4 linked regions of the Homo sapiens genome follow. The protein of the gene in region 4 interacts with the protein of the main gene of each other region in a pairwise test. Each region holds a gene or a part of one and is shown on either strand. Other genes may lie near its edges.

Region 1 (8,464 bases), on a different chromosome or scaffold from region 4:
TATATTGTAGAAGATTATTCAATGACATGGAAATATGTCTATAATATATTGTTAACTAAAAAGCAGGTTATACTATCCCACTTTTGAAAAATATTTTTAATTGTGATATTTCCTAGGTATTATACTTTTTCACTTCTATATGTGAAATATCTCTTAAAATTGACATGAATATTTGATGTTGTGGGTTCCCCCTCCCTCCCTCCTGAAAAGGTCTTACTAATGAGATGATGCTTCTCACTATCTGAGACTTGAGAAAATGCCATATGTGTGTAGAGAAAAGACTGGAGGAATAGACAACAAAACATGAACAGTGCTTGGCCCTTTAAAAAAGCCTTGGATGGAAATTCTTATTTTCTTCTCTGTAAGTATGGTTTCCAAGTTTTCTATAGTACATGCATAAATAAACATAAAAAGAAGCCAGGGGCCTAGATGCCCTTATTTTCAAGGATAAGGATATTTGCTACTTGCAGCCTTTATCAAAATAAGAGACTAGCAAATTTAGGACCACGCAAGCCACCTCAGTAGTACCAGGGTCTAGAGTGAAAAAGGACTAAAGCACAGGCCCACAGAGGGGTGCCTGGTTGGACAGGAGCAGGTAAGGCAAGCTTCGGAACAGATGGCAGAGTTCAGTCAGCAGGAGCTGGACTCTTGGATCAGTCTCAGTTCCATGTGGACAAGGAAATCCCTGTGAGGTATGAGAGGGTCCAGATGGCAGGGATGCTGGCTAATTATGGAGAAGGGCACTTCGATATTTTCCAGTGTAGCTCAGGAGCATGTTCCAAGTTCCTCAAGAGAGAACAAGGACTGTGTGAAGCAGAAAATGAGCCTGACTATTTGAGATTTAAAAACATATTTCCCCCTTAGCCAAAGGGGTAGCACATGGAGCAGAGATGGAAACAGCAGAATGTTCCTAGCCTTGGAAGAGGCTGGCAGGCTCTGGGATGCTGCTTGGGTAAGGAAGGGACTCAGGCTTGCAGTGACTGTGGCTGGGGTGCAGAGAAAAGTGAAAGGCACTCAGCTTCTCTAATGTAATTATGTCCAACCCTCAAAAGTTCTGAGATGAGCAGCCTGAGGCCCAGAGAGGCTATATGTTTTGCCCTAAAGCACACAGCCAGTAAGTGGTAGAGTGGGATTCTCATCTCACTGAAGTCCTTCTAAAAGGGAAAACCACTGAAGAAAGTTATATTAATACAGATTTATCATAATGATAGGTGGAAAAAGCAAGTTTCTAAAAAAAATCTTCAATCTGATCCCAACACTGAAAAACAATATGTATAGTACAGAAAAAAATTGCAAGGATATACAACTTAATGGTGGTTATATCTCAATGGCAGGAACTTTTAAATTTATTTTCTATTTTTAAATTTTTTCTGCACAATGAGCAAGTAAACCTTTTTAAAACAGGAAAAAAATGTTTTTTTTTTCAGAAGCAGTTGTGAGGACTAGTCGATCAAAGTAATGAGAATGAATTACAGTGAGCCCTTAATGACAAGAGAAATCTAGCTTCTTAGTAGTTATATGAATTTCAGCAAACCTACTTGGCTTTGCTGAGTCTGTTTCCTAAATACTAAAAAAAGGTGGATTATCGTCCTGCCCGGGGAGCTGTTGCTAGGATTAACTGAGAAGCAGTGTACACAAAAGTCCCATGCATAGCACTTGGCATAAGGATGGTGCTTAATAAATATTAGACCTGACTCTTGGTAGTCATAGCTCTTCCCTGCTGCACCAGGAAGGCATAGCACCTCCAGCTGGTTCAGAAAGCAGAAAGGAACCTGGGCAGGGGCCCGTTACTGGGCCTAGAGCTTCCTGTACACCTGACACATTCCCCTCCTCTGTTTTTACCATGTGGAGACTAACAGGATCTCCTCCCTTAACCCATTTTCACCTATTTGCCTCTCCCTCTCCCCTTGTCTCAATAATCTCAGCTGCCTAGATGGTATTTTTTAGTACATGTGACACTATTTTCAACATAACATACATTTGCAAAGCATCTGCTATGTTCTAAAGATGGACCCCAGGTCCTCCTCTCCATTCCTATCATCCAGAAATACTTCTCTGAGTTCTAATTGAGAAGTTAGATCCTTCAATAACTACCATTTGTTGCCGAACTGCAATAATAGAGGTACACACACTAAGTTGTGGAAACTCCGGGCTGGGGAAGAGATATGTTCTTACCAGTGTATGCACATGCGTGTAGAAGAGGACGGGAAGAATGGAAGTATTTAAAGAGTAATCATTTCCTCACTCTATATTATATATCAGCTTCATATACTGTCGTTACTAAAATGTGCCCATTCTGTTAAGCTGGTTTCAGAGCTAGTTAAATCAATGACCTAGTAGGGCTGTTTCCTCTCATCTTCAGATTTATTAAAGTCTGTCCACAGCCACAAAGTTTGTGGGGAAGGCTCAAGTCATATGATGACATGACAAGTAACATGCTGTTGCTGAGGCAGCGGGGTGGGGCACAGGTCCAAGGAGTTACAAACTGGCTCGGAGTGTTCCGCTCAGACATTTTAGAGCTTTTTGGAATACATAGCCATTCTGATTAACAGGCAGTTTTAAGGCTCAAGGGGTGCCAAAACCTGGCATTATTTGATATTTTTATTACTTACTGGTCAAACGTTAACATCAATGGAAGTAAAAAGAAGTTCATTCTTAGTTTGGTCTAACAAACTGTTTTTACATTTCCTTATTCCCTTTCAGCCCTTGTTGAAATCCATAAATCCATGGACATGATAATACTTGCAGATTAGATATAATTGAATATTCTACATCTTTCTCACACACAGATGCAGAGAATGATGTTAAGAGCAGCAATATTCAAAACCCAGGCGCTGTGACAACAGCCCCTTCAGGCCTGTAGACTGACAGTCCCGTAGAAGATGTTGGCAGGGCAATGAGACACACCCTGCTCTGCCTGTGTTATTTATGCCTCTGGCAGTGAAGCCCCTGACAAAGAAGCATGTCACTGGAACACATGCTCTTTGTTCACAGAGGTGCATGCCAGCACCGGCTGCGTAAGAACGGACAGTGCCGTGTCTGTAGTCTCTCCTCCTTTGGCTCTTTTGCCTTCTATTTGCAGCACATTGTGGCTATGTTTATTAATTACTTTGTGGCTTAATACTATAAAACACACATCTATCCTGTGAGCTATGTACCCTAGGGAAAGAGTCCTTCATACCCTCCAGTTGGCCATAAAGAGAGGACAGAGTCTCAAGATTTGCCCTGATGCTAAGGATTAATACCACCTCCTCCGGGAGCCATCAGGTTACCACTCTCTAGCACAGAGCTACCACGTTTAAGACTCCTTCAGCACCATCCCCCCTTTTCCTGCACGAGGACACTTGCATGCTGTTTGGTATTAAAAGCCCTCTGCAACTGTTCCCAACCTACAGCACCAAAGTAGCCCCCCACCATGCTATGACTCCACTCTAGCCAGACTGATGATGTAGCACAAGATGGTGGGCTGTGGAGTCAGACCTATCTGGGTGTAAATCCTAGCTCTGCTTCTTGCTGGACGTGCAGCTTAAGATTCCTGAGCTCCTCATCTGTAAAATGATTAAATTATCACCTACTTCAGAAAGTTGTCTGAGAATTAGAGAAATAATATCAAGCCCCTTAAAGCAGATCCTCAATAATCGCTTGTTGGCTCATGAAACCGATTTTTTGTTTTGTTTTGTTTTGTTTGGTAAAAGCCCTCATTGCATAGCCCTGTGGTTCTCATAACCTTAGTTACAGACCTTTTGTAACCCTGAGAACATCTGTCTCCATTTTCCCTTGTCATAAAGACGTCTGCTGAGACTACAAACGGAGTCAGGGAACTACTACCAGAAAGTTTTTCTTTTCCCATATTCCTTCTAAAACTTTCATCTTCAAATGTTAACTCACTCAGTATTTTAAAAGCTGATATATAATTGGTTTACAACTAAATTTGGGTTGTTTGCCACTAAAACTTAGGTAAAATAGGAAAGGGGGCACTTTCTTAACTTCCATAAAACTTCATGTTAATACATAGAATTTCAAGTTTTTCTTTAACAAATTGTTCTTAGTTTTTGGTGCTTCTTGTCAGTACGATCTTCTTAGATTGTATTTGATTTGACACATTATGTATTTACTTATTGTACGCTGAATATAACGTCATTCCCCGGTGTTCTGCAAAGCACAACACTCATCCCGATCTGGTGCTCTAACCCCTGGGACCCTTTGGGCCAGACCATGACAAAGGCTGCCTGCCAGGTTTCAGCGAAACTTAGACCACCAAGAATTTACACACTTCACAGGGGTGCCCTAAGGAATAAATGAGATTAAAAAAAAAAGTCTGCGGGGAAACCCTGAGGCCCTATTAGAAATGCTAATCGTTTCCTTCTCTAGCTCCTATTAAAATGTTAGAAAACCGAGGGAGACTCTCCTGAACAGGGTGGGGATGCTCGGCTGCTCTGTGGCTTAGCAAGCGACCCCAGCTGCCCTGCCAGGGCCGGTCGGCCGCGATTCCGTCCCGACGGGGGGGATCCTCGGCGGCACTACGGACGCCAGTCTGCCAAGGAGGCAGCGGGGTTCGGCCTGTTGGCCCCAGACTGTGTGGCAGGCAAAAGGTGAACGTCAAAGCCTGTCCCCGGCTTCTTCACATCTCGCGCCTCCGCGGGCGTCGGGCCGCCCCCGTGAGCCTCCCCGGATGGACTGGGTTTTAGGGACCCCCGCAGCCGGACTGCAAAGCTTCCCACCAACCCTTCCCGCGAACCTCCCAGCCCGGGCCGCAAGCCCAGCTCCGGGCGCGACGACGTGGGGCCGGAGGTAGAAGGAGTCTCAGCGCGGCGGGGGCCGGGGGGCGGGGAAGCCCCCCCACCCACGAGAAAGGTCTTACATCAGCCGCCCCACGTGCAATCGGAGAGAGGGAGGAAGTCGCTCCTCTATTCGGGCTGCGCCTTTCCCCAGCCTCCGCCCCGCCCGCCGCGAGTCTCCCCGCCCCGCCTTGGTGCAGCCGCGGCCGCCGAGCCGAGCAGCGCCGCGCGGGGCCGAGTGGAGCCGAGCAGCTGCCGCGCCGCGTCGCCGGTTTAAGCGCAGTGCAGGCCGCGGCCGGGGGCGGCGGTAGTGAGCCCAGCGCTGCGCTCCAGCCCCCTTTTCCCTCCATGGTTTCTCTCCGCTCCCGTGAGTAACTTGGCTCCGGGGGCTCCGCTCGCCTGCCCGCACGCCGCCCGCCACCCAGGACCGCGCCGCCGGCCTCCGCCGCTAGCAAACCCTTCCGACGGCCCTCGCTGCGCAAGCCGGGACGCCTCTCCCCCCTCCGCCCCCGCCGCGGAAAGTTAAGTTTGAAGAGGGGGGAAGAGGGGAACATGGACATGAAGAGGAGGATCCACCTGGAGCTGAGGAACCGGACCCCGGCAGCTGTAAGCAGAGACCCCTCTGGGTGCCCTCTCCCCCGATGACTTGCATGTAATGGTGGCCACCTGCGGGGCCCGGGCTGAGGGTTCGCCGGCCCCGGCGCGGGGAAGAGCGCAGCTCGTGGGCTCGGACGGGGAAGGCGGGCGGGCGCGGAGGGGGGAGCGAGCGCGCGAGGATTAACTCTTTGCCGCCCGCGGGCCCCTGGGGCGGCCGGGGGGAGGCAGCGGTGTGGGGGAAAGCAAACTTTGAGCGCTTCGCCCGCCGGGGTCTTTCCCCTGAGGGAGCGCGTGTGCAAGTGGCCGGCGGCGAGAGAGGGAGGCGGGGGTTGTGTAACGCTGGGAGCCATGTTTGCAGCCTCCCGGGATGCGCGGCCGGGCGGAGGCCCGGCCTGCCGAGGAGCTGCGCGGCCATCCCCGCCTGGGCCAGGCCGGGCTCCGCGCGCCCCGGGCCGGCCGGGGAAGGGGCGCGGGTGGGGCGGGACGGGGGCTCTTGTGGCCGGAGCTCGCCGTGGGCGCCGGCCCGGCCGAGGTCAGCAGTCGTGGGGCGAGGAGGGGGCTTTTTTCTTTTGAAGGGAGCGAGAAGCCCCCTCGGGCGCCTGGAGGCCTGGGCGGGCGCGGCCCGGCGCGCGGAGCGGGGGAGGGGCGGGCCAGGGCGGCGGAGGTGGCGCAACCGCCGCCCCTCCCGAGGCCAAGTTTGAAAAAAGGACGTGGTTCCCGCCATTTTTCAAGCCCAAAAATAAAACTTTCTCCCCCGTTCTCTCGCTCCCTCTTCGCCCTCGGCCTTGCCCACTCCTGCCTCCCAGGGGCAGCCCGGGTCGACCAAGGCCAACCGTTGTGGCGACGGCCTCGCCCTTCCCCCTGTGCCGCGGCGGCGGCGCCCGGGGCCCCTGCCCTTGCCCCGGGAGGCTGGCCCCTCCGTGTGGGCGGGCGGCGGCTCTTCACGCCAGCCGGGGCGCGCCACAGGCCGCCGCAGCGCCATGTTGGCGGGTGCCCGTCTCCCTGCGCCTGGTGAGCCGGCCCACGAGCTTGGCCTTGCCCGCCCGCCCTCGGCGCTGGCTGGCGGCCGCCTCTTCCCGCGCCGAGCCCTCGGTCTGTTTCCCCCCGCCCCGCCGGGGCTTGGCTCCCACTGGCGGGAGCCGCGCGCCGCGGCCGCCGCCGACTCATCCCGTCGCGGGCGCGCTGCCGACCCCCTCCCCCTTCTTAAAAGGGCAACGGCAGGCGGCCGCCCCCGCCCCGCGCCGGGCGCGCGGGATTTTGGGCGGGCTTCGGCTCGGCTCGTGGGCCGGGCGGCCTCTGGCCTCCCACGTGCTTGAGAGCGGCCTGGTGCGGTCGGCCGCGCGCCTTGCGGGCTGTAGGGGCCTGAGGGCGGCCCTCTTGCGGCGCGGCTGCGTGGGCGTGGGTCCGACCTGTGGGAATTGCCCCATTCGTCTCCCGGGTTTAGCGCGGCTGCCCGCCGTCGCGAGCCCCCCCCCCGCCGCGGACCGGCGCGGGCCAGTTAGCGCCGCGGCCGGGTGCCCCAGCGGGCCAGTGGCTTTCCCGCGGAGGGCGGCCCCGCGGGGCCTCCCGACCCGCTCTGGGCTAAGCGAGCGGCCAGGTTTCGTGCCCTCAGGTGGCTGTGGTTAACAAGTCGCGAACTTGTGGGAATTCGTCGACCAGGGTTTACCTGGTGTGCTCGACATTTTAAATCCTTGCTCTCTAGTCTTTGAGGTCACCACTAACGCGGGGCGGGCCGGGCTCCACCGCACGGCGCTGTCCTTCCCGGAGGGCCCGCGAGGGTGGGCCGCTCCGGGGGTTGCGAGATGGAGGGTCGCGGGCGTGCGTTCTTCCGACCTTCCGTCAGACATTTTGTGCCCGCCACGTGCTAGCCTATCGCCCAGCTCGCGCCTCAAAACTTGAGAGGCTTTCTTGGCTTGAGAAGGTGTTTATTCCAGACTTTTCCATTGCGGCGTAATTGCAAATCCGTAGAATATGGAGTAGCTAAAATTAGCCAAAGTGCCCGCAAGAGAAGTACACACGTGGGTCTTCAGAAATGCGTTAAAATCTAGAATTTGAATTCTTTAGGATATGCTCAAACTAAAGGTCTTTTAAAATTCTCAAGAGTAGTGTTCCCTCTGGGAAACACAGTTGGTCTGCTGTTCCCCTTAGAGGATGTTTTCATATATGAAGTAATATTGCTTTAAAAACACATGTATATCTACAGGTGTTCATTTTTCTTTTTTCTGTTTTTCTTTTTTTTTTGAGACTGAGTCTCTCTCTTGCCCAGGCTGGAGTGCAATGGCACTATCTCGGCTCACCTCAGCCTCCGCTTACCGGGTTCAAGCGATTCTCCTGCCTCAACCTCCCGCGTAGCTGGGATTACAGGCATGCGCCACCATGCTCGGCTAATTTTGTATTTTTAGTAGAGGCGGGGTTTCTCCCTGTTGTTCAGGCTGGTCTCCAACTCCTGACCTCGGGTGATCCACCCGCCTCGGCCTCCCAAAGTGCTGGGATTACAGGCGTGAGCCACCGCCCCCGGCCACCAGTTCATTTTTCAAGTAATCAGCTTAACCTTCTTGCCAGTCAGGCCAGAGCCATTTAATTCAGTTAAATTAAAACATTTTCTCTGTAATACTATCCACATTTCAAGTGCTCAGACGTGACAAGTGGCTCGTGGGTGCTGCGTTAGGCAGCACTGGCCTGCAGAATCCACTGGTTTATTAAGTAAACATTTTAAGCCTGAGAAACCATTGAGGTGGTGTGGTGCTTTTTGCACTTGGGAGAGTTGATGAGGCCTTGAGAGAGTGTTGTGGGAGCCAGCTAAGATTGTGGGGGTAGAGGAAGGTTCCCTTAGGGAGACTGAGACCAGTGGGAGTTAGGTACCCAGTTGGGCGAATAAAACTTTGACCTAAAAGTGAAGGGTTTTTCAGGAAAAAATGCTGTAGATTTTGAAGGAAATTCTAAAAGAGAGTTTAAAGTGTTTTCGCACAGAGGCGTCATCCTTAAGGCAAATGAAAAGTTTGGAGATCACTCTCTTAAAATCACATTCAGCTAGTCACATGATACCTTATGTGTGATGTGCTGGAACATGCCATAAACACCACAGAAAT
Region 2 (7,500 bases), about 22 Mb from region 4:
TTTTTAGTAGAAATGGGGTTTCACCATGTTGACCAGGCTGCTCTTGAACTCCTGTTCTCAAGTGATCCTCCCACGTCGGCCTCCCAAAGTGCTGGAATTACAGGCATGAGCCACCATAACATAGCATAACCATAACAGTTTCATGTGTATCCTTCCACTCTTCTTTGTATGAATTTATATGCAAACATTTGTGTGTATACACAGATTTTTTTTTTTTTTTGTGGAAATGGTTCTCACTCTGTCACCCTGGCTGGGCAGGCTGGAGTACAGTGGCATGATCACAGCTCACTGCAGCCTTTACCTCCCGGACTCAAGTGAGCTGCCTGCCTCAGGCTCCTGAGTAGCTGTGACTACAGGCATGCCACCACATCTGGCTAATTTTTTTTTTTTTTTGGAGACAGAGTCTTGCTCTGTCGCTCAGGCTGGAGTGCAGTGGCATGATCTCAGCTCACTGCAAACTCCGCCTCCCAGGCTCACACCATTCTCCTGCCTCAGCCTCCGGAGTAGCTGGGATTACAGGTGCCCGCCACCATGCCTGGCTAATTTTTTGTATTTTTAGTAGAGACAGGGTTTCACCGTGTTAGCCAGGATGGTCTTGATCTCCTGACCTCGTGATCCACCCGCCTCGAACTCCCAAAGTGCTGGGATTACAGGAGTGAGCCACCGCGCCTGGCCTAATTTTTTAATTTTTTGTAGAAACTGGGTCCCACTGTTTTGCCCATGTTGGTGTTGAGCTCCTGGGCTCAAGTGATTCTCCTGCCTTGGTCTCCCAAAACACTGGGATAACAGGTGTGAGCCACCACACCTGGCCTCGATTTTTTTGTTACATAAATGATCATATAATATGCTGATAGGTAGATGGATGGATGGATGCTAAAGCTCACTATTTGCCTATGACATTGAGAAATGGGCTTTTGCATACATCTAGGTGGACAATACAAATTAAGGCTTTTTACAAAGTAATTTGGCAATATCAATAGAAATTTAACTGTATAGGGGAATGAGGTGAAGTACAGAGTGTCAGTTGGGGAAGATGAGAAAATTCTGGAGATAGATAGGAGCGATGGTTGCACAACAGCATGTTTGCAGTTAATATCATAGAACTGTACGCTTGGGTATATTTTACCATAATTTCAGTCAGTTAATTGATCAGCTAATAAGCTGGAATCCCTAAAGAAAGAGAATCTGTGATTATAAAACAATATTGGCCAGGTGTGGTGACTCATGCCTGTAGTCCCAGCACTTTGGGAGGCTGAGGCAGGCAGATCACTTGAGGTCAGGAGTTGGAGACCAGCTTGGCTAACATGGTAAAAACCCCATCTCTACTAAAAATACAAAAATTAACCAGCATGGTGGCATGCGCCCGTAATCCCAGCTACTCAGGAGTCTGACTCAGGAGAATTGCTTCAACCCAGGAGGCGGAGGTTGCAGTGAGCCGAGATCACTCCAGTGCGGCCTGGGGAACAGAGCAAGACTCTGTCTCAAAAAACAAAACAAAACAAATAATATTGATCGTAATATTTCCTGTGCATAAAGTCTAATTTGTTATACCTAGTGTGAAACCTAACTTTTTATCTAGGAAGGTACACAGTTGTCAAAGGCATCATCTCTCCTGTTGGTGATGCCTACAAGAAGAAAGGACTCATTCCTGCCTATCACCGGGTCATCATGGCAGAACTTGCTACCAAGAATTCTAAATGGGTGGAAGTTGATACATGGGAAAGTCTTCAGAAGGAGTGGAAAGAGACTCTGAAGGTGCTAAGGTATTTATGGTGTAATCAACTTTGTCAGTTCTGTGTAAATGGCTAAGCGGCTTATGTTTTTACCATGTTTCAATGTTGCTTACATCTGTGAACATACAGATTTGCAAAACTGTCACGTGTGTTGTAAGCCATTCCTGTGGAAGGTTACTACAAGACTGTAGAGCACAGCACCAAAGGATGGGTCTTCCTTAGCCCCTCTGTGTCTTTCATTATGTTTTAAGTTGTTTGCGGCCAGGCGCGGTGGCTCACGCCTGTAATGCCAGCACTTTGGGAGGCTGAGGCGGGTGGATCAGCTGAGGTCAGGAGTTCGAGACCAGCCTGGCCAACATGGTGAAAACCCGTCTCTACTAAAAATACAAAAATTAGCCGGGCATGGTGGCGCATGCCTGTAATCCCAGCTACTTGGGAGGCTGAGGCAGGAGATACACTTGAACCCCGGGGATGGAGGTTACAGTGAGCCAAGATTGTGCCACTGCACTCCAGCCTGGGTGACAGAGCGAGACTCCATCTCAAAAAAAAAAAAAAAAAAAGATGTTTGCTTGCTTGCTACTATGTGATACCACTGTTAGAAAATAGAGGAAGCCTGCCTGGGCTTTCTGTGCCCCAAATGAGAAAGGGAAAATTGCAAGAAGATGTTATTATCATCAGTCTTCCTAAGTATAAAAGAGACAGGCAGATAATTTAAGGAAGAGAAGCATCCAGTGCTGCTTGATCATGGACAGGCCTGATTCGTGTGCTGCTTCCATGACAGCATCTGGGCAGGGAGTCACAGATCTCTGTGCCCATACCTTTGAAGCAGTTCTAGTTAAGGGTTCAAAAACCAGAGTAAGTGACATCTAATTATTTCTCTTTTTTTTTTTTCTTTTTGAGACGGAGTCTCGCTCTGTCACCCAGGCTGGAGTGCAGTGGTGCATTCTCGGCTCACTGCGACCTCTGCCTCCTGGGTTCAAGCAATTCTCCTGCCTCAGCCTCCCAAGTAGCTGGGACTACAGGTGACTGCCACCACGCCCCGCTAATGTTTTTGTATTTTTAGTAGAGATGGGGTTCTACCTTGTTGGCCAGGCTGGTCTTGAACTTCTGACCTCAGGTGATCCACCTGTCTCAGCCTCCCAACACCTAATTATTTCTTTTCTTTTCTTTTTTTTTTTGAGATAGAGGTTCACTCTTGTTGCCCAAGCTGGAGTGCAATGGCATGATCTTGGCTCACTGCAACCTCTGCCTCCCGGGTTCAAGCCGTTCCCCTGCCTCAGCCTCCCAAGTAGCTGGGATTACAGGCGCCTGCCACCACGCCCGGCTAATTTTTGTATTTTTAGTAGAGCTGGGGTTTCACCCTGTTGGCCAGGCTGGTCTTGAACTCCTGACCTCAGGTGATCTGCCCATCTCGGGCCTCCCAAAGTGCGGGGATTACAGAGGTGAGCCACCGCACCTGGCTGACACCTAATTATCTCTTAATGTTATTTTGATTTTTTTAAACTTTATTTTCTTTTTTTTGTTGGAGATGGGGCCTCGCTATGTTGCCTATGCTGACTGATCTCAAACTCCTGGCCTCAAGCAATCCTCCCACCTAGGCCTCCCAAAGTGCTGGGATTACAAATGTGAGCTACCATGCCTGGCCTGTTGTTATCTTGAGTTTAAAATGAAAGGGCTTTCTGAAAAGCCTTTCTGTTTAGTATCTGTTCTTAGAGTTCTGAACTTTCCAGTGACTGACTGTATCATTTAGGGTTCAGACTAGGAAATAGAAACCCACTCTGGATATTTTAAGTGGAAAGAGATTTAAGTACTTAGGCAAAAAGTACTTAAAAGAGCTGAGGCCGGGCGTGGTAGCTCATGACTATAATCCCAGCACTTTGGGAGGCTGAGGCCGGCAGATCACCTGAGTCCAGTAGTTCAAGACAAGCCTGGCCAACATGGTGAAACCCTGTCTCTACTAAAAATACAAAATTAGCTGGGCCCATACCTGTAATCCCAGCTACTAGGGAGGCTGAGGCAGGAGAATTGCCTGAGCCTGGGAGGCAGAGGTTACGGTGAACTGAAATTGTGCCACTGCACTCCAGCCTGGGCAGCAGAATGAGACTGTCTCAAAAAACAACAACAAAAAAAAGTAAAAGGGCTGGAGAAGTGGAAGTCAGGGTCACTCCTCCGATGTTGCCGTCAGAGTTCAACAAACCAATTCCGCTTCTGCTGCTATTGAACTGTCTCAGTCTCCTGAAGTTGGTGACGGACAGTGGACTCCAGCGTCTAGCCACCACACCCACACTAGAAAGGATTACTGGCTATAAATAGCGCAATAATAGGATCAGGCCGGGCATGGTGGCTCACACCTGTAATCCCAGCACTTTGGGAGGCCGAGGTGGGTGGATCACCTGAGGTCAGGAGATCGAGACCACCCTGGCCAACATGGCAAACCCCGTCTCTACTAAAAATACAAAAATTAGCCAGGCGTGGTGGCACATGCCTATAGTCCCAGCTACTTGGGAGGCTGAGGTGGGAGAATCCCTTGAACCCGGGAGGTGGAGGTTGCAGTGAGCCGAGATTGCGCCACTGCACTCCAGCCTGGGTGACAGAGTGAGACTCCGTCTCAAAAAAAAAGATTACTTGTCAGGCTCCACAGTCCCAGGATGATGGCCTCTGTCCTCCTTCTGCCTTCCAAATCTCTCAGGAGAGAATCTCATTAGCAGAAATCGCAGTCAAGTCCACAGCCTGCTGCAAGGACCTCTGGGAAGTGTGTTGGGCAGGATTGGGCACTGAGTCAGTAGGAAGTATCTCACACAGTGATCTCTCAAGAGGACTTCCTTTTCAGACTTGGCAGGGAGAAGAGTCTCCACTGCTTGATGGCAAAAAATTCTCCCATGAGGGAGCAAGTTCCTGGGCCACAGCCCTACCCGACCCTCTGGCTTTATAGTAACCTTATTGCCCATTAAATAGTCAACTCAGCTGCTCAGAAGGGTTGGGATGTAGGGGAATAAAGGCCCACAGTTGGATCCCACAAGTGTAGTTGATGTTATTTGGGTAACATTGCACAGTTTGAAAACAGTGGGCACCCTGCTGCCAGCCCAGAATAGAGCTATACACAAATCCTGCTTAGGGCCCCTTCCTTTAAGGCCTCAGGCCCTTGCCGCTCTAGGACCTTCTCCTTGGCGTTCTGGTTCTTTGTCACAAGATTAAGCCACACTCTTCCATGGTCAAGAGTGTGGGCTCTGGACCAGACTGCTGGGGTTCAAGTCCTGGCTCTGCTATTAATACTTTTAAGTTAAATGACCTTAGGCAAATTAGTCAGTGTCCTCTGTCAATGGGGTAATAAACAATTCTGATATGAGAGATGAGCAGCACATTAAAACCAGAAGTATTTTCAGTGAAACTAGCTGCAAGGTGGCAGTAATATAGTCGCTTTGTAATAACCAAAATGTTCAGGCTGATCATGGTGGCTCACATCTATAGTCCCAGCACTTTGGGAGTCTGAGGCAGGAGGATTGCTTGAGGCCAGGAGTTCAAGACCAGTGTGGGCAACATAGTGAGACCTCATCTCTCCAAAAAACTAAAGTTAGCTGAACATGGTGGCACGTGCCTGTAGTCGCAGCTATCTGGGAGGCTGAGGCGGTAGGATCACTTGAGCCCAGGAGTTTTGGTTGCAGCGAGCTATGATTGTGCCACTGTGCTCCATCCTGGGCAATAGAGTGAGCCTGTGTCTCTGAAAAACAAACCAAAAAAACCCCAAAACATTCACTCAATCAAATTGTTATTGAGGCTGGGCGCAGTGGCTCACGCCTGTAATCCCAGCACTTTGGGAGGCCTAGGCGGGCAGATCACAAGGTCAGGAGATCGAGACCATCCTGGCTAACATGGTGAAACCCTGTCTCTACTAAAAATACAGAAAAAATTAGCCGGGCGTGGTGGTGGGCGCCTGTAGTCCCAGCTACTCGGGAGGCTGAAGCAGGAGAATGGCGTGAACCTAGGAGACGGAGGTTGCAGTGAGCTGAGATCGTGCCACTGCACTCCAGCCTGGGCGACAGAGTGAGACTCCATCTCAAAAAAAAAAAAAAAAATTGTTATTGAATGCCTCCTCATAGACTCTGCTAGGAGCTGGAGTAGCAACTGTAAGCCTCCTTTCTCCTTCCCTTACGGAGATAATAATATTTATGATATAGGATGTTGAGAAGATTTTTTTTTTCTTTTGAGGCGGAGTTTTGCTCTTGTTGCCCAGGCTGGAGTGCAATAGCGCAATCATGGCTCACTGCAACCTCCACCTCCTGGGTTCAAGCGATTCTCCTGCCTCAGCCTCCCGAGTAGCTGGGATTATAGGCATGTGCCACCACACCCGGCTAATTTTCTATTTTTAGCAGAGACAGGGTTTCTCCATGTTGGTCAGGCTGTGTCTCGAACTCCTGACCTCAGGTGATCCACCCGCCTTGGCCTCCCAAAGTGCTGGGATTACAGGTGTGAGCCACCACGCCCAGTCGAGAAGATTTTTAATTTTTTTTAGTCTTCCACAACAGTCATCTTATGTTGAGAAGACTTAATCAGATAATCCATGTAAAGGATTCAGTGTAATGTGTGGCATATGATAAATAATGTTGGCCAGGCACCTATAATCCCAGCACTTTGGGAGGCTGAGGCGGGCAGATCGCTTGAGGTCAGAAGTTCAAGACCAGCCTGGCCAACATGATGAAACCCCGTCACTACTAAAAATACAAAAAAAAATTGGCTGAGCGTGGTGGTGCGCCCCTGTAATCCCAGCTGCTCGGGAGGCTGAGGCAAGAGAATTGTTTGAACCCAGGAGCCAGAGGTTACAGTGAGCTGAGATCACACACTGCACTCAGCCTGGGCGTCAGAGCAAGACACCATCTCAAAATAATAAATAAATAAATAATGTTAATGATATTCTTTTTTTTTTCTTTTTTTGAGATGGAGTCTCACTCTGTCGCCCAGGTTGGAGTGCAGTGGTGCGGTCTTGGCTCACTGCAACCTCTGCCTCCCAGGTTCAAGTGATTCTCCTGCCTCAGCCTCCCGAGTAGCTGGGATTACAGGTGCCCGCCACCACACCCGGCTAATTTTTTGTATTTTTAGTAGAGACGGGGTTTCACCGTGTTAGCCAGGATGGTCTCGATCTTCTGACCTCGTGATCCGCCCACCTCGGCCTCCCAAAGTGCTGGGATTACAGGTGTGAGCCACTGTGCCCAGCTATAAATAATGTTAATGATATATTCTAATGGAGCATGTGAGAAAGAGAAATATTCTATTGTTTTGTTGTTTTATAGACACCATCAAGAGAAATTGGAGGCTAGTGACTGTGATCACCAGCAGAACTCACCTACTCTAGAAAGGCCTGGAAGGAAGAGGAAGTGGACTGAAACACAAGATTCTAGTCAAAAGAAATCCCTAGAGCCAAAAACAAAAGGTTTGTATGTTTTAGCAGGACCCACGGACTAGAGTTGATAAGATTCTGTAGCTGAGCAAACCCCTGTGTATTTTTTTTTTTTTAGATGGAGTCTCGCTCTATCACCCAGGCTGGAGTGCAGTGGCATGATCTCAGCTCACTGCAAGCTCTGCCTCCTGGGTTCATGCCATTCTCCTGCCTCAGCCTCCTGAGCAGCTGGGACTACAGGTGCCTGCCACCACGCCTGTCTAATTTGTTTGTATTTTTAGTAGAGACGGGGTTGCACCATGTTAGCCAGGATGGTCTTGATCTCCTGACCTCATGATCCGCCCACCTCGGCCTCCCAAAGTGCTGGGATTACAG
Region 3 (7,500 bases), on a different chromosome or scaffold from region 4:
TGGAAAGAGAAAGCTACAAAAAAAAATATGAATAATTAGTTTTTCTAATCCTTACTTAGCTTTTTCTCTCATCCTGAACAAGTGTTGTGTTGTCTTATATTAGAATTTTAAATATCTGCTATTTAAAATTCATTTTTGAAAGTTAACATTCAAAATGCTGCCTTTATTTTCCAAAACACCAGACACGTACTCTTTAATGATAGAGGATCAGATTAATCAACTCTTAGTCATATTTTTAGTTACTTATCAGAAGTTACAAATTACATAAATGGATGTGTAATAGTTTATGTTACATATTGGGCAAAAGATAGTAGGTTATTAGAGGTAACAGTTTATACTTCAGTAAAATTGAAGAAGAGGTAGTTTATTGTGACTGATTTCTCTCTTTTAGGAGAATTTTTGGAAAAGGTACGACAGAAGAAAAAACGTGATATCACTGTTTTGGACCTGGGATGTGGTAAAGGTGGAGATTTGCTGAAATGGAAAAAAGGAAGAATTAACAAGCTAGTTTGTACTGGTAAGATAAATAATGATATGGGAAAGAATAATTTGTAGTCAGATAAATGGAAAATAAGAAGGATTGTCTCAAATTGCAAGATATCTGGGACTATGCATGAGATGGGTTTTTTTTAAATTAATTACGGCCTGACGCGGTGGCTCATGCCTGTAATCCAACATTTTGGAAGGCTGAGGTGGGTGGATCACTTGAGGTCAGGAGTTTGAGACCGGCCTGGCCAACATTGTGAAACCCTGTCTCTACTAAAAATACAGAAAATTAGCTGGGCATGGTGGTGCACACCTGTAATCTCAGCTACTCAGGAAGCTGAGGCAGGAGAATCACTTTTACCTGGGAGGTGAAGGTTATAGTAAGACAAGATCGCACCACTGCACACCAGCCTGAGTGACAGAGCAAGACTCCGTCTCGAAAAAAAAAAAATTAGTTACAAGACTTTCCTGATAGTTTCATAGTAAGATTAATAAGCCTGGGATAACGTTTCCTTCCCAAAAGGAAGGAAGCTATCAAAGATGGTCGGAGTCATGTCTAAAGGGCAGACTTGAAAAGGTTTCCATTGGCAAAAATAGGGCAATTTTAACATTAAAAAAAAAATAGCAGTTGGACACATCAAATCAGAAAAACACATTGTTCACCCTTGAAGGTTGCTAAGAAACTATTCTGAAACTTATAAATTAAGGGGAGGAAATCAAACATTTGTAATCAGATGGTTGAAAAGGGCAGTTCCTTTTTTTTTTCAATCAGATAAAGAGGAATTATAGAATTAGAAAATCATAATTTTTTTCATTCTTTATGAAATAATAGATCTAGGCAATAATTTTTTTTTTTTGCTACGGAAGCCATTAAGGGAAAAGTCGATAGTAACGCAATGAATCAATCAATCAATCACCTTAGCCCGGTGGTTAGTCTTAACACTGAAGTGGGACAAGCAGACGTCAGCGTCTTTCTGATGTGGTGAGTTAAAAGAGATACATACCCCCACTACTGAAGTACTGCCCAAATTAGCAGTTCTCAGATTTTTTGGTTTTATGAGCCCTGTATACTTAAAAATTATTGAGGACCCCAGAAAGCTTTTTTGTATGTAATTATGGTAAGTAGCTACTGATATTTACTATATTGGAAATTAAAGCTGAGAATTTTGAAAATATTTTTTAGTTCATTAAAAGTAACAAGGCTGGCTTTTACATTTTTGTAAATCCCTTTAGAGTTTGAAATTGCAGGAGACAACTGGATTCTCACACCTGTTTCTGCATCCAATATGTTGTGATTTTATTTTGGTTGATAAGTAGTTGTAAAATAAAGAAGTATTTTAATAGCCTTTTTTGATAATTGTAGATATTCCTCTGTTACTACATCAAAACTCAGTAAGTGGTAGTTTCTTAAAGAGTAGTTACAATATGGAATCTGAAACCTTAGTGATGAACTTTTTATACCGTGTAACATTAAAATCCATTAATCTGTCTTGCACTTCCTGCATGATTTTATAGTACTTGGAAAATACTGTTCACTAAAGTTATGCAGATCTAATTGTTGAGAATCAAAAAATCACGTGTTTAATATCACTGCCAATCAGAAAAGTATTGGGAAGAAGTCCAGCCCACAGTGATCAATACGAGTTTTTCAGGGTTGTAATTCTTATTTGAAAGTCAATTTTATTTTTGGCAACAAATACACTGTCCCTTGTCTCCCTTTAAATTAGCGATCCCTAACCTTTTTGGCACCAGGGGCCGGTTTCATGGAAGACTGTTTTTCCACAGAAGCGGGGGGATGGAATTCTACCTCAGATCATCAGGTGTTAGATTCTCATAAGGAGTATGCAACCTAGCTTGCCTGCCACTCACCTCCTGCTGTGCAGCCTGGTTCCTAACAGGCCGTGGACCTGTACTGGTTTGTCGCCCAAGGGTTGGGGAACTTTAAGTGACAGGTTCACTTTGTTCATTTTCAAGAAAATATGTGCCAGGTACTGAAGTCTGCATAACCGTAGTTTGTCAGTCATTCAAGTCAAAATAATTTTCTCAGAAAAAAAGTGGCCAGTACAGCTCAAAACTCAGAACAGTCATATCAGTACTGTTCTTGAAGATGACCATCATACTTTGTTAGGTAGCAGAAATGTTTTGTTACTTCCCATTTCATCACACAACATTTTAAAAAGTGTGTATTCAAAAGCCCAGGTTTAATAAAATTAATTTTCACTATTTTATAAAGGGTATTCTTAAATGAAACTGTTTTTCTCCCCCTGCATATTGTATAGTGGTGAAGAATACATGAAGTACTGCCAGTACCATTTAGTGCTGCTACTTTGTATTTGTGATAAGATCCCATTGCCTTTGCATTATCAGTGTGAATCTTTAAACAGGGAAAAGGGCAGGCTGGGCACAGTGGTTCATGCCTATAATCCCCAGCACTTTGGGAAGCAAAGGAGGGTGGATCACTTGAGGCCAGAAGTTAGAGACCAGCCTGGCCAATGTGGTGAAACCCCATCCTCTACCAAAAATACAAAAAATTAGCTGGGCATGGTGGCACACAACCTATAATCCTAGCTACTCGGGAGGCTGAGGTATGAGAATCACTTGAACCCTGGAGGCAGAGGTTGCAGTGAGTGAAGATTGCACCACTGCACTCCAGCCTGGGCAATACAGCAAGACTCTGTCTCAAAAAAGAAAAAAAGAAAAGGGCTAATAACATTTTATTATAAAAATATACCCTTGGTATTTCCAAAACTGGGCTTATTGATAGTGTTAGGTTTTATAATTCAGATTGGAATAAAACTTTCTCCTTTTTACTTTGAATAAGCATTTAAAAATCATGATAGAACTTTTATAGCGTCCGTACCTATTGAGACGCTTTTAGTTCCTCTTGAAAACTGATAGGGTATTTGCGTCGGAACAAAGCCCTTTTCTTTTCTTTTAAAGGAAATAAAACCTTTTCACTGGTACTAAGGCTGACTTTTATGCCAGAGTTTGTCAGTTGAGATCAATGTCTAGATTTCTGGCATTCTGTGTTGATACTTACTAATACCCTTCCATCCTTCCAGATATTGCCGATGTTTCTGTCAAACAGTGTCAGCAGCGGTATGAGGACATGAAAAATCGTCGTGATAGTGAATATATTTTCAGTGCAGAATTTATAACTGCTGACAGCTCAAAGGTACAGTTTCTTTCTTTGGTCAATTTATTTTTTACATTTTTAGTTTGGGTAAATAATTTGTTTTAAAAATCAACTCAATTTTTACTTTTTTAAAAAAATTTACTCTTATTTTTTGAGACAGGGTCTTACTCTGTCACCTAGGCTGGAGCACAGTGGCACGATCTCAGCTTACTGCAACCTCTGCCTCCCAGGCTCAAGTGATTCTCCTGCCTCCCAGCCTCCTGAGTAGCTGGGACTACAGGCACATGCCACCACACCCAGCTAATTTTTATATATTTTGTAAAGATGGGGTTTTGCCATGTTGCCAAGGCTGGCCTCAAACTCCTGAGCCCAGGTGATCTGCCTGCCTCCCATAGTGCTGGGATTACAGGCATGAGCCATGGTGCCCGGCTACTCATTTTTTAAAATGTGTTTTGAAACTTTAAAAATCTTGGAATATGCATTTTCACTTTTGACTGGAAATTCTATTATGATAAATTCCCTTGAATGACTCACTGAATACTTGTAATTTTTTGCTTTTAATAATTTGAATTGAAATTAGCTGTTGCTTTTCGGTATGGACATCATTTATTTTCCAGTATTTTGAAATAGAACTGAACTTATACTATGTTTTGTTCACCTTGTAATTTATTAGTTTCCCAACATATCAGAGCCTGTTTGGTTTTTTCCTACCTTCCACCTGTTTCTGAATTTCTTAAAAAGAACTGCTTCAAGGGTGAAAGTCTCACCATGAACTTTTTGTTCTTCATTGACTTATTGACTCACTGAACTGTTATAGATACCTTTAATCATACACATTTTGTTTGAAATTTGAAAGTGAAAAAGATAAGTGGGAGTATACTGCCAGAAAGTTGTAATACCTTTAAAACATTTTTGCATTTTTTAAAAAATGCCAAACGCCAGATGTTTTTTAACTCAAGTTATTGTTGAATGTCATTTTATTTTAGCTGTCAAGTAAAGTGATGAAAGGATCAAGTTGAAATGTCATAATTGACTAATATATTTTAAACATGATTTCAGAATTCCTCAGTTTTTAAATACTGTGAAAGTGGGAATCAAATTATTCTGTTAAACTAGAATACATGCATGATTTCTGTGTGTCCTTTATTGTACAAGGGAAAGATTGTGAGGGAAAGGAAGAACCTTACATTCTAGAAGTTAATTTACTAAAAAGTTTTTAATCTTTGTTGTAGTTACCTCACAATCTTAACTCATTTTAATTTGTTTCAGGAACTTCTGATTGACAAATTTCGTGACCCACAAATGTGTTTTGACATCTGCAGTTGTCAGTTTGTCTGTCATTACTCATTTGAGTCTTATGAGCAGGCTGACATGATGCTGAGAAATGCGTGTGAGAGACTTAGCCCTGGGGGCTATTTTATTGGTACTACTCCCAATAGCTTTGAATTGATGTAAGTACTTCTAAATATATTGTGGTTTATAAAATATTCAGTATTAAGTAGCAAATGTTTATCAGAGGTAGATTTTATTAAAATACGCTATTTTAATCTTATAAGTGTTGAACACTTTCATAAGATATTTGAGTAGACATTCAAAATTTAAATTCAATAGACAAATTTACAGGTGAACTTTTAACAGTTCATCTTTGTGTGTAAGTTAGAGACTGAAGTTATAGTGATAGACAAACTGCAGGTCAGATACACAGGCACAGAGATGAACCAGCTGTCATGAGAGTGATACCTACTTCCAGCTTAATTTTATTGGTGTGACTGTTGGTGATCTTTTAGTATATTGCTTCTTAAAAGTAGCTCAAATCAGGAGAGTGCAGTGGCTCATGCCTATAATCCTAGCACTTTGGGAGGCCAAGGCAGGAGGATTGCTTGAGGCCAGGAGTTTGAGACCAGCCTGGACAACATAGTGAGACCTTGTCTTTACAAAAAATTTACAAATTAGCCAGCATGGTGGCACGCCCCTGTAGTCCTTGCTCAGGAGGCTGAGGCAGGAGGATCACTTGAGCCCAGGAGTTGGTGGCTGTAGTGAGCTATGATCACACCACCACACTCCAGCCTGAATGACAGATTAAGACCTTGTCACTTTAAAAAAAAAAAAAAAAGGTAGCCCAGATATAATTAAAAGGCTAATCAAGTGTGCATCATGTAGTTTTTCACATGCATAATCTGATCAAAATAAGTCTACACTAATCACAATTTTAATCTTTTTATTTTGGTTGGGGGATAACCTTGATAGAAGACGCCTTGAAGCTTCAGAAACAGAATCATTTGGAAATGAAATATATACTGTGAAATTTCAGAAGAAAGGAGATTATCCTTTATTTGGCTGCAAATATGACTTCAACTTGGAAGGTGTTGTGGATGTTCCTGAATTCTTGGTCTATTTTCCATTGCTAAATGAGTAAGAAGTCATTAATCTGTTCACTCTTTTCTTTTTGTCTTAAGGGAAAGAAAAGCGGGGAAAAGCAATATTTATTTTACTCTTTATTTTAAATGAGGGCTAAAGAAAAAGTATAATCTTGTTTTTTTGTTTTTGTGTTTTTAAAAAAAAAAAACAAAACAAGACTAGCTTCACATCTAGGGGATTATTGCCATAGGTCTCATAATAGCCTAACTTAGTTTTCTCTCATTCCTGGAATTTTTTAATCCTGTGGGTGAAAAAGGGAACCAGTTGCCTTCAGCTTGTGGCACAAAATGCCTGACACTGCAAATAGCAAAAGTTTTTTTTTTTTTTTTAGTGACTACTGGTAACTTTGATGATAAACAATGAGTCTTCATAAATCAAAGATCCGGCCGGGCGCGGTGGCTCACGCCTGTAATCCCAGCACTTTGGGAGGCCGAGACGGGCGGATCATGAGGTCAGGAGATCGAGACCATCCTGGCTGACACGGTGAAACCCCGTCTCTACTAAAAATACAAAAATTAGCTGGGCATGGTGGCGCGCGCCTGTAGTCCCAGCTACTCGGGAGGCTGAGGCAGGAGAATGGCATGAACCCGGGAGGCGGAGCTTGCAGTGAGTCGAGATCGCGCCACTGCGCTCCAGCCTGGGCGACAGAGCGAAACTCCGTCTCAAAAAAAAAATAAATAAATAAATAAATAAATAAATAAATAAATAAATAAATCAAAGATCCTCCTTTTGACAGAGATGAGTATTAAAAGTTGTTTGCATTTCACTATAACTTTGAAATTGCCTATGTCTCACAGGCAATGTTGATGATAAAATCCTGATTCAGGAATGTATTCTCCCATGTGCCTGAATTCCTAGGAGTCCTGGCAAACTGTAGACACAGGAAAAGCTGGGGGTAACTGGGCCTTACCAGGTAAGGCTTCAAGGCCTTGTGATACACCTTGGTTTCCAGAGTTTCCCCGGTGGGGAGAGTATAAAAGTCAGCTTAAATGTAGGCCATGTCATGATTGATTGAACTTGATTTTCTACTTTTTAGAAACAAAAATCTTTTGTTTTGAATATTAACTGAGAAAAAGAAGAGGTATATTGTCTGCTTACTTCTGCTTGGTGCTTATTTTAATTGTAACTCAGTCAGTCTGTAAAATTAGGGTTACAGTATTTTCAGGAGTTCTATAATAGCTTATTCAATAATATAAGAAAGCCAAGTAGCATTGTGACTGAACATGAGGAAAATACTGTGCATAATTTTATAAATATAAACCATTTACAAAATTTAAAAATATCAATTACATTTTCCTTTTAATTTTTAAAACTAATAAACTGGGGAAATGTTACTGCTCTTCAACTTTATTTAAAAAAGAACTTAATTGTGGAATGTTATTGAGTATGTTTAATATGTTAGCTTGAGATTTTAGTTAACAGTTTGGTGATTTTAGTATAATCAAAAAGATAATAAAACA
Region 4 (8,356 bases):
TCCAGGCTTCAGCCAAGGGCTCCCTGGCAAGGGGCTGTTGGGTAGAAGTGGTGGTGGGGGGGACAAAAGACAAAAAAATCCACCAGAGCTTTGTATTTTTGTTACGTACTGTTTCTTTGATAATTGATGTGATAAGGAAAAAAGTCCTATTTTTATACTCCCAACAAGCCTGTGTCCTGTGGTTCTTTTCCTTCGTGTGTGTGAGACCTATTACAGAGGTGTGGGATTCTGGTTTAGGAAGCCCCAACATGTGGCTTCTGAAGCCTCTGTGGGTACTGCCTTCTTCAGTAGAGAGGAGATGAGAAGGCACTGGAGGCCACGGGAGCAGTGATAGCTACTGCGAACTGAATGCTCACTGTGTGCCAGATGCTGCTCTGTGTGTATTTCAGGCCTTGCCTTAATCTAACTTTTATGACAACCCTAGGAGGAAAGTGCTATCACTCCAATGGATGAAGAACTGGAGCTCAGAGAGTTATAGTGACTTGCCCGTAGTAACACAGCTAGGAAGTGGTAGAGCTGGACATAAAACCTCTGAAAGGCCGGGCACAGTGGCTCAAGCCTGTAATCCCAGCACTTTGGGAGGCCGAGGTGGGCAGATCACTGAAAGCCAGGAGTTCGAGACCAGCCTGGCCAAGATGGCAAAACCCCATCTCTACTAAAAATATAAAAATTAGCCAGGTGTGGTGGCGCATGTCGGTAGTCCCAGCTACTTGGAAGGCTGAGCCACGAGAATCGCTTGAACCTGGAGGCAGGGGTTGCAGTGAGCTGAGATCGCGCCATTACACTCCAGCCTGGGTGACAGAGCAAGATGCTGTCTCAAAAAAAATAAAATAAGGCCGGGCGCCATGGCTCACACCTGTAATCCCAACACTTTGGGAGGCCGAGGCAGGTGGATCACCTGAGGTCAGGAGTTTGAGACCAGTCTGACGAACATGGAGAAACCCTGTCTACTAAAAATACAAAATTAGCCAGCCATGGCGGGTGGCGCATGCCTATAATCCCAGCTACTCGGGAGGCTGAGGCAGGAGAATTGCTTGAACCCAGGAGGCAGAGGTTGCAGTGAGCCAAGATCCCACCACTGCAATCTTGCAGTGCCAAGACTGAGCCAAGATCCAGCCTGGGCAACAAGAGCAGAACTCTGTCTCAAAAATAAAAATAAAAAACCTCTGAAAGATGACACTACTATCCTGGCAGAATGTGATTTCTTGATTATCTCAGCATGCAGTCACTGGGACCCTCCTTGCTGGGTATTATGGTAGATGGTGAGGATGCCAAGACACTGGAACAAGCAAGTAATACTACACTGGGATGAGCCCAACAGTTACAAGGTACAACAGAGCAGAGGGGAGAGAATGCTTAATGTTCTCTGGGCTTTTTGGAGGAGGGGATAGTCTGAATTGTATTAGCCACTTCCTAGGTGAACAAGAGAGGAAAAGGGTGTTTCAGTTAGAGAAGCAGGCAAATGTAATAGTGCACATGCAGTAGCACATAGATTTGGAACATCCTGGTGTGTTTCGGGGAAGGTAAACAGAATGTGGATCTTAGAGCAGGAATGATTTAAAAAAAAAGTGGAATGGGAAAAGTCAACAGAGGCTGGATCAGGGAGGACCAATAGTCCTAGGCTAGCAAAGGTGTATGAGCAGGGTCATGTGCTAGAGTAGAAACAGCTGCTTGTAGGTCACTGCCTCCTATGGGCATAGGATGGAGGGTTCAGGCTGAAAGGAGAGGAAACATGGACACTCAGCCATTCTCATCTATTCAGCCCACGTTCCCTGAGCCCTTCTTCGCCATAAGGTATGCAGACGAGCTCACAATGCTATATGGGAGACACACACCTCAACAAATATTTTTGGTGCCTCTACTGAGGCAGACACCGTGCTGAACACTGGGATGGTTACAAAGATAAGGAAGATACTGTTCCTTCCATAGACAAGGAGAGAGAGACACACATTGTGAGCAAATTTGGGTGTGAAATGCTAAGGAAAATTAGTGTCCATTTCTTCCTGTAGTAGCAGAGAGGACAGGTGCCCTATCTGGAAAGACAGGCTTCCCCAAAGAGCTGATAGCTGAGTTCAGTCTTGAAAGCGAGTAGTTCTCAGAGTCAGGCGCGGTGGCTAACGCCTGTAATCCCAGCACTTTGGGAGGCTGGGGCGGGTGGATCACCTGAGGTCAGGAGTTCAACACCAGCCTGGCCAACATGGCAAAATCCCGTCTCTACTAAAAATACAAAAATTAGGCTGGGTGCCATGGCTCATGCTTGTAATCCCAGCACTTTGGGAGGCCGAGGCGGGTGGATCACGAGGTCAGGAGTTCGAGACCAGCTTGGCCAACACAGTGAAACCCTGTCTGTACTAAAAATACAAAAATTAGCTGGGTGTGGTGGCAGGCACCTGTAATCCCAGCTACTCGGGAGACTGAGGCAGGAGAATCGCTTGAACCCAGGAGGCAGAGGTTGCAGTGAGCCGAGATCACGCCCCTTTACTCCAGCCTGGGCGACAGAGCTAGACTCTGTCTCAAAAAAAAAAAAAAAACCAAAACACCAAAAAAAACCCAACAACAAAAAATTAGCCGGGTGTGGTGGCGCATGCCTGTAATCCCAGCTAGTCAGGAGGCTAAGGCAGGAGAGTTGCTTGAACCTGGGAGGTGAAGTTTGCAATGAGCCAAGATCATGCCATTGCACTCCAGCCTGGACAACAAGAGCAAAACTCTGTCTCAAAAAAAAAAAAAAAAAGTGAGTAGTTCTCATGGTTAAGTGGGGAAAGGAGGGCACTGCATTCTAAGCAGAGGGAACAGCATATGCAAAGGCACATGAGAAGACAGGCGCATATTTGAAGAAAAGTGGTTCTCCAAATATGGTTGGAGCCTGCATTGCCTGGTGGGGAGTGTCCCAAGAAGCAGGTAAGGACCAGTCTGTGCCAGATTAAAATGTCTGGGCATTACCTAAGGGCAGGCAGTAGGAAGTTGCTAAGCAGAAGAGTTACACTGTAAGGTTTCTGCTTTTTTTTTTCTTTTTTTTTTTCTTTTTTTTTTTTTTTTTTAATGAGACAGGTTTCTCTGTGTTGCCCAGGCTGGTCTTGAACTCCTGGGCTCAAGCAATTCTCCCACCTCAGCCTTCCCAGTAGCTGAGATTATAGGTCTCTGCTTTTCAGGAGATAGTGGGTGGGAGCCGGAGAGTCTGGAGGCAGGAGGCCAGAGAGGAGGCAGGCAAAACAGAACAGGGCAAAGTGATGAGGTCTCACCTTAAGCAGGGGCAGTAGGAAGGGAAATAAAGTGCGCCCCTTCCTGACCTTCATCCTAGAGTTTTCCTTTTGATTTCTTTGCCTCAAGAAAATGGGCCAGGCGCACAACTAAAGTTGGCAGTTTGTTGTGACAGGCCCTTGTTCTGCTTCCAGAAGATAGATCCCTCTGTGTCTTGAAGATATAGCCTGGCTCTGTGTGTCGAGGTGGGGGACAGGAGGGCTGCCATGTCATGGAAAAAGAAAGGCCTGATATGTACTAGCCATACGTCCCGTGATTGAAAAGGCATATGAACAATAAAAGCCTCAATTTCCTCATCTCTAAAAGGGGAGATCATGTCCCTTGCTCTGTGTAACTCAATTTTTTGTTCATTCCTTTGTTTATTCATTCAATAGTTATTTATGGAGCACACACAATGTGCCAGATTCTGTGCTAGGTGCTGGAGATACGGTGGTAAACAATATAGAACCCACCCCTGCCTTCAAGGAGCTTGCTGTGAGGATAAATGAAATGATTATGAAATCACTCTGTTAACTATACTGCATGGGTCTCATTGTTTTTCTTTTTTTTTTTTAGAGACGGGGGATCTTGCTATGTTGCCCAGGCTGGTCTCGAACTCTTGGGCTCAAGCAATCTGCCGCCTCAGCCTCCTAAAATGCTGGGATTACAGGAATGAGCCACCATGTCCAGCCCATTTCTTTCTCTCTCTCTCTCTCTCTTTTTTTTTTTTTTAGAGACAGGGTCTCACTCTATCACCCAACCTGGAGTATAGTGACACAGTCATGGCACTGCAGCCTTGACCTCCCGGACTCAAGTGATCCTCTCGCCTCAGCCGCCCAAGTACAAGTGCTCATTACCATGCCTGGCTAATTTTTTTCTTTTAATTTATTTTTTGTGGAGATGGGGTCTCACTGTGTTGCCCAGTCTGGTCTTGAGCTCCTGGCCTCAAGTGATTCTCTGGCCTCAGCTTCCCAAAGTGTTAGGATTATAGACAAGCGTGAACCACCACACCCAGCCCTATTTTTCTATTTCTCATCTCCCAATAAGATTGCAACCTCAACTAGGGCTACCTACGTAGGCCTAATCAGAAAACCTGAGTTTAGTCTTACTTCTTTGTTTCCTTCTCTCCATAGCCTCATTGAGCAAGGCACTTCCCCTCTCTAGATGATTCGTTGTTCATATTCAGCCCAAGGTCTATGATTGCTGTTTTTGTTTTTAGAGACGGAGTTTTGCTCTTGTCTCCCAGGCTGGAATGCAGTGGCACAATCTCGGCTCACTGCAACCTCTGCCTCCCGGGTTAAAGCAATTCTCCTGCCTCAGCCTCCCAAGTAGATTACAGGCATGCGCCACCACACCCAGCTAATTTTTGTATTTTTAGTAGAGACCATGGGCAGGCTGGTCTCGAACTCCTGATCTCAGGTGATCCGCCCGCCTCGGCCTACCCAAAGTGCTGGGATTACAGGCGTGAGCCACAGCGCCCAGCCGATTGGTTTCAACTATTAGAAGAAGGGATAAACTGGCCCGGAGCGGTGGCTCAAGCCTGTAATCCCAGCACTTTGGGGGCGGGCGGATCACCTGAGGTAAGGAGTTCAAGACCAGCCTAGCCAACATGGTTGAAACACCGTCTCTAGTAAAAATACAAAAATTAGCCAGGCGTGGTGGCAGGCGCCTGTAATCCCAGCTACTCGGGGGGCCGAGGCAGGAGAATCGCTTGAACTCGGGAGGCAGAGTGTGCAGTGAGCCGAGATCGCGCCATCGCACTCCAGCCTGGGGGGACAAGAGCGAGACTGCGTCTCAAAAAAAAAAAAAAAAAAAAAAAAAAAAAAAGGAGGGATAAGCTTCTGGGAGAAAAAGTTCCGGGTAAAGAAATCTCACTATAAAAAAGAAATAGTAGCAGAAACAGCTGGGAACTCCTAGACACACTTAACTTTCTTAGGTATCCCTTCCAGTCTCCTCCCAACCACTCCTTTCCTATTTCATTTCCACTCCCCACCTTTAGTAGCTGCGGTCTCTTTAAGTGCGCACTTTCGGTGTAATGATAGGCGATTGGGCCAATAAAGCGTTTCGTCCTGGAGTTAACTGGTTTGTCCCTTTCGGGCTGCCGTCCTACAGATCCGCCATATTGTCTACTGAAAGCTGCCGCTGAAGCTGCCGCCGTTGCCTCCGCCGCCAAGAGTGAGCGAGCGGACCCGCGATGGGTGAGTGAGGAAACCACGCAGTAGGGTTCTTGGGCTCAGGGAGTGTCGGGGCCTGGGATTTGGCGAGAGCCTGTCTCCGGTCTGCGGAAGATGTCTGCATCCCCTCTAGCTAGGTCTGAGGGGAAAAGTCAGGCCGGGAGTGCCCCTCTTGCCAGTTTTGGGCCGAGCTAGGGCCCGTGCTGGAAGCAGTCCTTTGGTGCTGGTTTCGGGGACACCTTGGCACGCCTGGAGCCCCCCACATGGTGGCCTCGGGCAGGAGCCCACGTGTTCCTGGGAGGTAGAAAGGGGCCTACTCTCTGTCCTGCGCCCAGACTGGGGCTGGGGGACGGGCTCCCGGCGGCAGGCCTGGGCGGCGCTAAGGTAGCTTTCTCCTGGGTTGTGTTTGGCCAACGCGTGTCTTGACTAGATTCAGTGGCTCCCCTGAACTCAGGGAAGTCCTACCTACGTAGCGAGGTGGAGTCCTCTAGTGAGGGGACGTCAGGCGAGCCAGCACTAGGCCGGTAAGCATGGGCAGCCAGGCCGAGGGCAGCTTGCGCCGCTGAAGGCCGGGAGAACGGAATCAAGGCGGAAATAGTGTGGTTCGGTTGGGCTCAGAGTGGCATCGCTTGTGATGGTAGAACACCAAAGGCCAAGTCCTCTTGGCCATCTTTAGGTTGAGGACTTTAGGTTTCTGGGCTGGCCCTGGTAAGGAGAAAAGGAGCGACCTGTTGATCTTTCTGAGGGGACTCCGGCTGGCAAGGCCTCTGTTCAGAGAGAATACCATGGCGAAGTCTTTGGATTTAGAGACAGAACCAACAGTGGTAATTCCTCTAAAGCAGTAAAAATTGTGAAATTTGCTAAGCTCTTTCTACGTACGGGCATTGTTCTGATTGCTTTACATGTCTTGTTTTACTTAATTTGTACAACCTAAGGAAATAGATGCTACCATTGCCATTTTACAGATGTGGAAGCTGAGCTTTAGAGAGGTAAAGTAACTTACCCAAGGTCATGCAGTGGCTAAGCCAGGGTGAACACTCCCAAGCCTAGTTTGTAACTGCTGTTTGTTGTTGTTGTTGATAGAGTCTTGCTCTGTCGCCCAGGCTGGAGTGCAGTGACGCGATCTCGGCTCACTGCAACCTCCTGCCTCCCGGGTTCAAGCGATTCTCCTGCCTCAGCCTCCCGAGTAGCTGGGATTACAGGCACCCACCACCACGCCCGGCTGATTTTTGTGTGTTTTTGGTAGAGACAGGGTTTCGTCATGTTGGCCAGGCTGGTCTCGAACCCCTGACCTCAAGTGATTCGCCTGCCTCGGCCTCCCAAAGTGCTGGGATTACAGGTGTGAGCCACTGCGTCCAGCCTGTTTTTTTGTTTTGTTTTTTTTTTTAAATGACCTGGCCCTCTAGTGGTTGGGCAGGGAGAAAAGGGGAAAAAAGCTTTTAACCCTAGGCAAAGTTGTAAATGTGTTTGGGTTTTCTGTTTGTTTATTTTGTTTTGTTTTGCTTTTTGTTTTTGCATGTGGGCCCATTATGAAATCTTTTTTTTTTTTTTGAGACGGAGTCTGGCTCTGTTGCCCAGGCTGGAGTGCATTGGCGCGATCTCGGCTCACTGCAACTACCACCTTCCCGGGTTCACGCCATTCTCCTGCCTCAGCCTCCCGAGTAGTTGGGACTACAGGTGCCCGCCACCACGCCTGGATAATTTTTTTTGTATTTTTTTGTATTTTTAGTGGAGACGGGGTTTCACCGTGTTAGCCAGGATGGTCTTGATCTCCTGACCTCGTGATCCTCCCGCCTCGCCTTCCAAAGTGCTGAGATTACAAGCGTGAGCCACCATGCCCGGCCACTTTGAAATCCTTTTTCTGAACGAAACTGAAGGAGTCCAGAGTGAATTGATAACTCTAATTATTGTGTGTGGGGCAAGCAAAATGAGAATCTGGAATTGAATTTTTTTTTTTTTTTTTTTTTTTCTGAGAAGAAATTTCACTCTTGTCTCCCATGCTGGAGTGCAGTGGCCAGATCTCGGCTCACTGCAACCTCTGCCTCCCGGGTTAAAGCAATTTTCCTGCCTCAGCCTCCTGAGTAGCTGGGATTACAGGCATCCACCACCACACCTAGCTAATTTTTGTATTTTTAGTAGAGACAGGGTTTCACCATGTTGGCCAAGCTGGTCTCGAACTCCTGACCTCTGGTGATCTGCCCGTCTCGGCCTCCCAAAGTGCTGGGATTACAGGCATGAGCCACCGCGCCTGGCCTGGAATTGGATTTTTAAAGATCTGAGATTCTAAGGAAGCAGAAATTATTCACTTGAGCTTCAAGGCAATGACTGTAGAATCAGATCTGGTATTGGAAGTCACTTAAATGTCAGACACAACAACACATATGGAAAGCATCTAGCACAGTCCACAATAATGTTTTTCTTCCTTTCTGAGCCTTCCTTTTCTGACCTCTAGAAAGAAGGGGTGGGGCTGTGTTATCAAGATATTTGGGGACTAAATAAGATAACAGCATTTGGGCTGGGCAAGGTGGCTCAGGCCTATAATCCCATAGGCCGAGGCGGGTGGATCACCTGAGGTCAGGAGGACGACACCAACCTGACCAATAAGGTGAAACCCTGTCTCTACTAAAAATACAAAAATTAGCTGGGTATGGTGGCGTGCTCCTGTAATCCCAGCTACTTGGGAGGCTGAGAAGGGAGAATTGCTTGAACCCGGGAGGCGGAGGTTGCAGTGAGCCGAGATCATGCCAGCCTGGGCAACAAGCTAGACTCCCTCTCAAAAACAAACAAATAAACAAACAAAAAACAGATAACAGTGTTTGGAGCCTAAAGGGCTCCATGAATATCAGAACAGATTCTTTTCCACTTTCAATAATGTTCCTTTCCCTTAAGCACTCTGGTTTCCAGGTTTCCCTATTGAGTAATAAGACTGATAGGCCTTTCTTAGT

The links.
Region 1: the proteins of KPNA6 (region 4) and ANP32B interact in binary tests that used the Homo sapiens proteins (3 or more experiments, as listed by UniProt).
Region 2: the proteins of KPNA6 (region 4) and NMNAT1 interact in binary tests that used the Homo sapiens proteins (3 or more experiments, as listed by UniProt).
Region 3: the proteins of KPNA6 (region 4) and RNMT interact in binary tests that used the Homo sapiens proteins (3 or more experiments, as listed by UniProt).

Annotation. Positions count from the first base shown.
Region 1 is NC_000009.12:97,978,226-97,986,689, forward strand, and holds the start of ANP32B (acidic leucine-rich nuclear phosphoprotein 32 family member B), read left to right. Parts: upstream 1-5,115; 5' UTR 5,116-5,330; coding exon 5,331-5,384; intron 5,385-7,210; exon of another isoform or gene 7,211-7,296; intron 7,297-8,420; exon of another isoform or gene 8,421-8,464. UniProt on the Homo sapiens protein: Multifunctional protein that is involved in the regulation of many processes including cell proliferation, apoptosis, cell cycle progression or transcription.
Region 2 is NC_000001.11:9,974,013-9,981,512, forward strand, and holds part of NMNAT1 (nicotinamide/nicotinic acid mononucleotide adenylyltransferase 1), read left to right. Parts: intron 1-1,579; coding exon 1,580-1,763; intron 1,764-7,018; coding exon 7,019-7,158; intron 7,159-7,243; coding exon of another isoform or gene 7,244-7,287; exon of another isoform or gene 7,288-7,500.
Region 3 is NC_000018.10:13,736,619-13,744,118, forward strand, and holds part of RNMT (mRNA cap guanine-N(7) methyltransferase), read left to right. Parts: intron 1-391; coding exon 392-517; intron 518-3,548; coding exon 3,549-3,661; intron 3,662-4,891; coding exon 4,892-5,073; intron 5,074-5,869; coding exon 5,870-6,034; intron 6,035-7,500. UniProt on the Homo sapiens protein: Catalytic subunit of the mRNA-capping methyltransferase RNMT:RAMAC complex that methylates the N7 position of the added guanosine to the 5'-cap structure of mRNAs. Binds RNA containing 5'-terminal GpppC.
Region 4 is NC_000001.11:32,102,700-32,111,055, forward strand, and holds the start of KPNA6 (importin subunit alpha-7), read left to right. Parts: upstream 1-5,356; 5' UTR 5,357-5,431; coding exon 5,432-5,435; intron 5,436-8,356. UniProt on the Homo sapiens protein: Functions in nuclear protein import as an adapter protein for nuclear receptor KPNB1. Binds specifically and directly to substrates containing either a simple or bipartite NLS motif.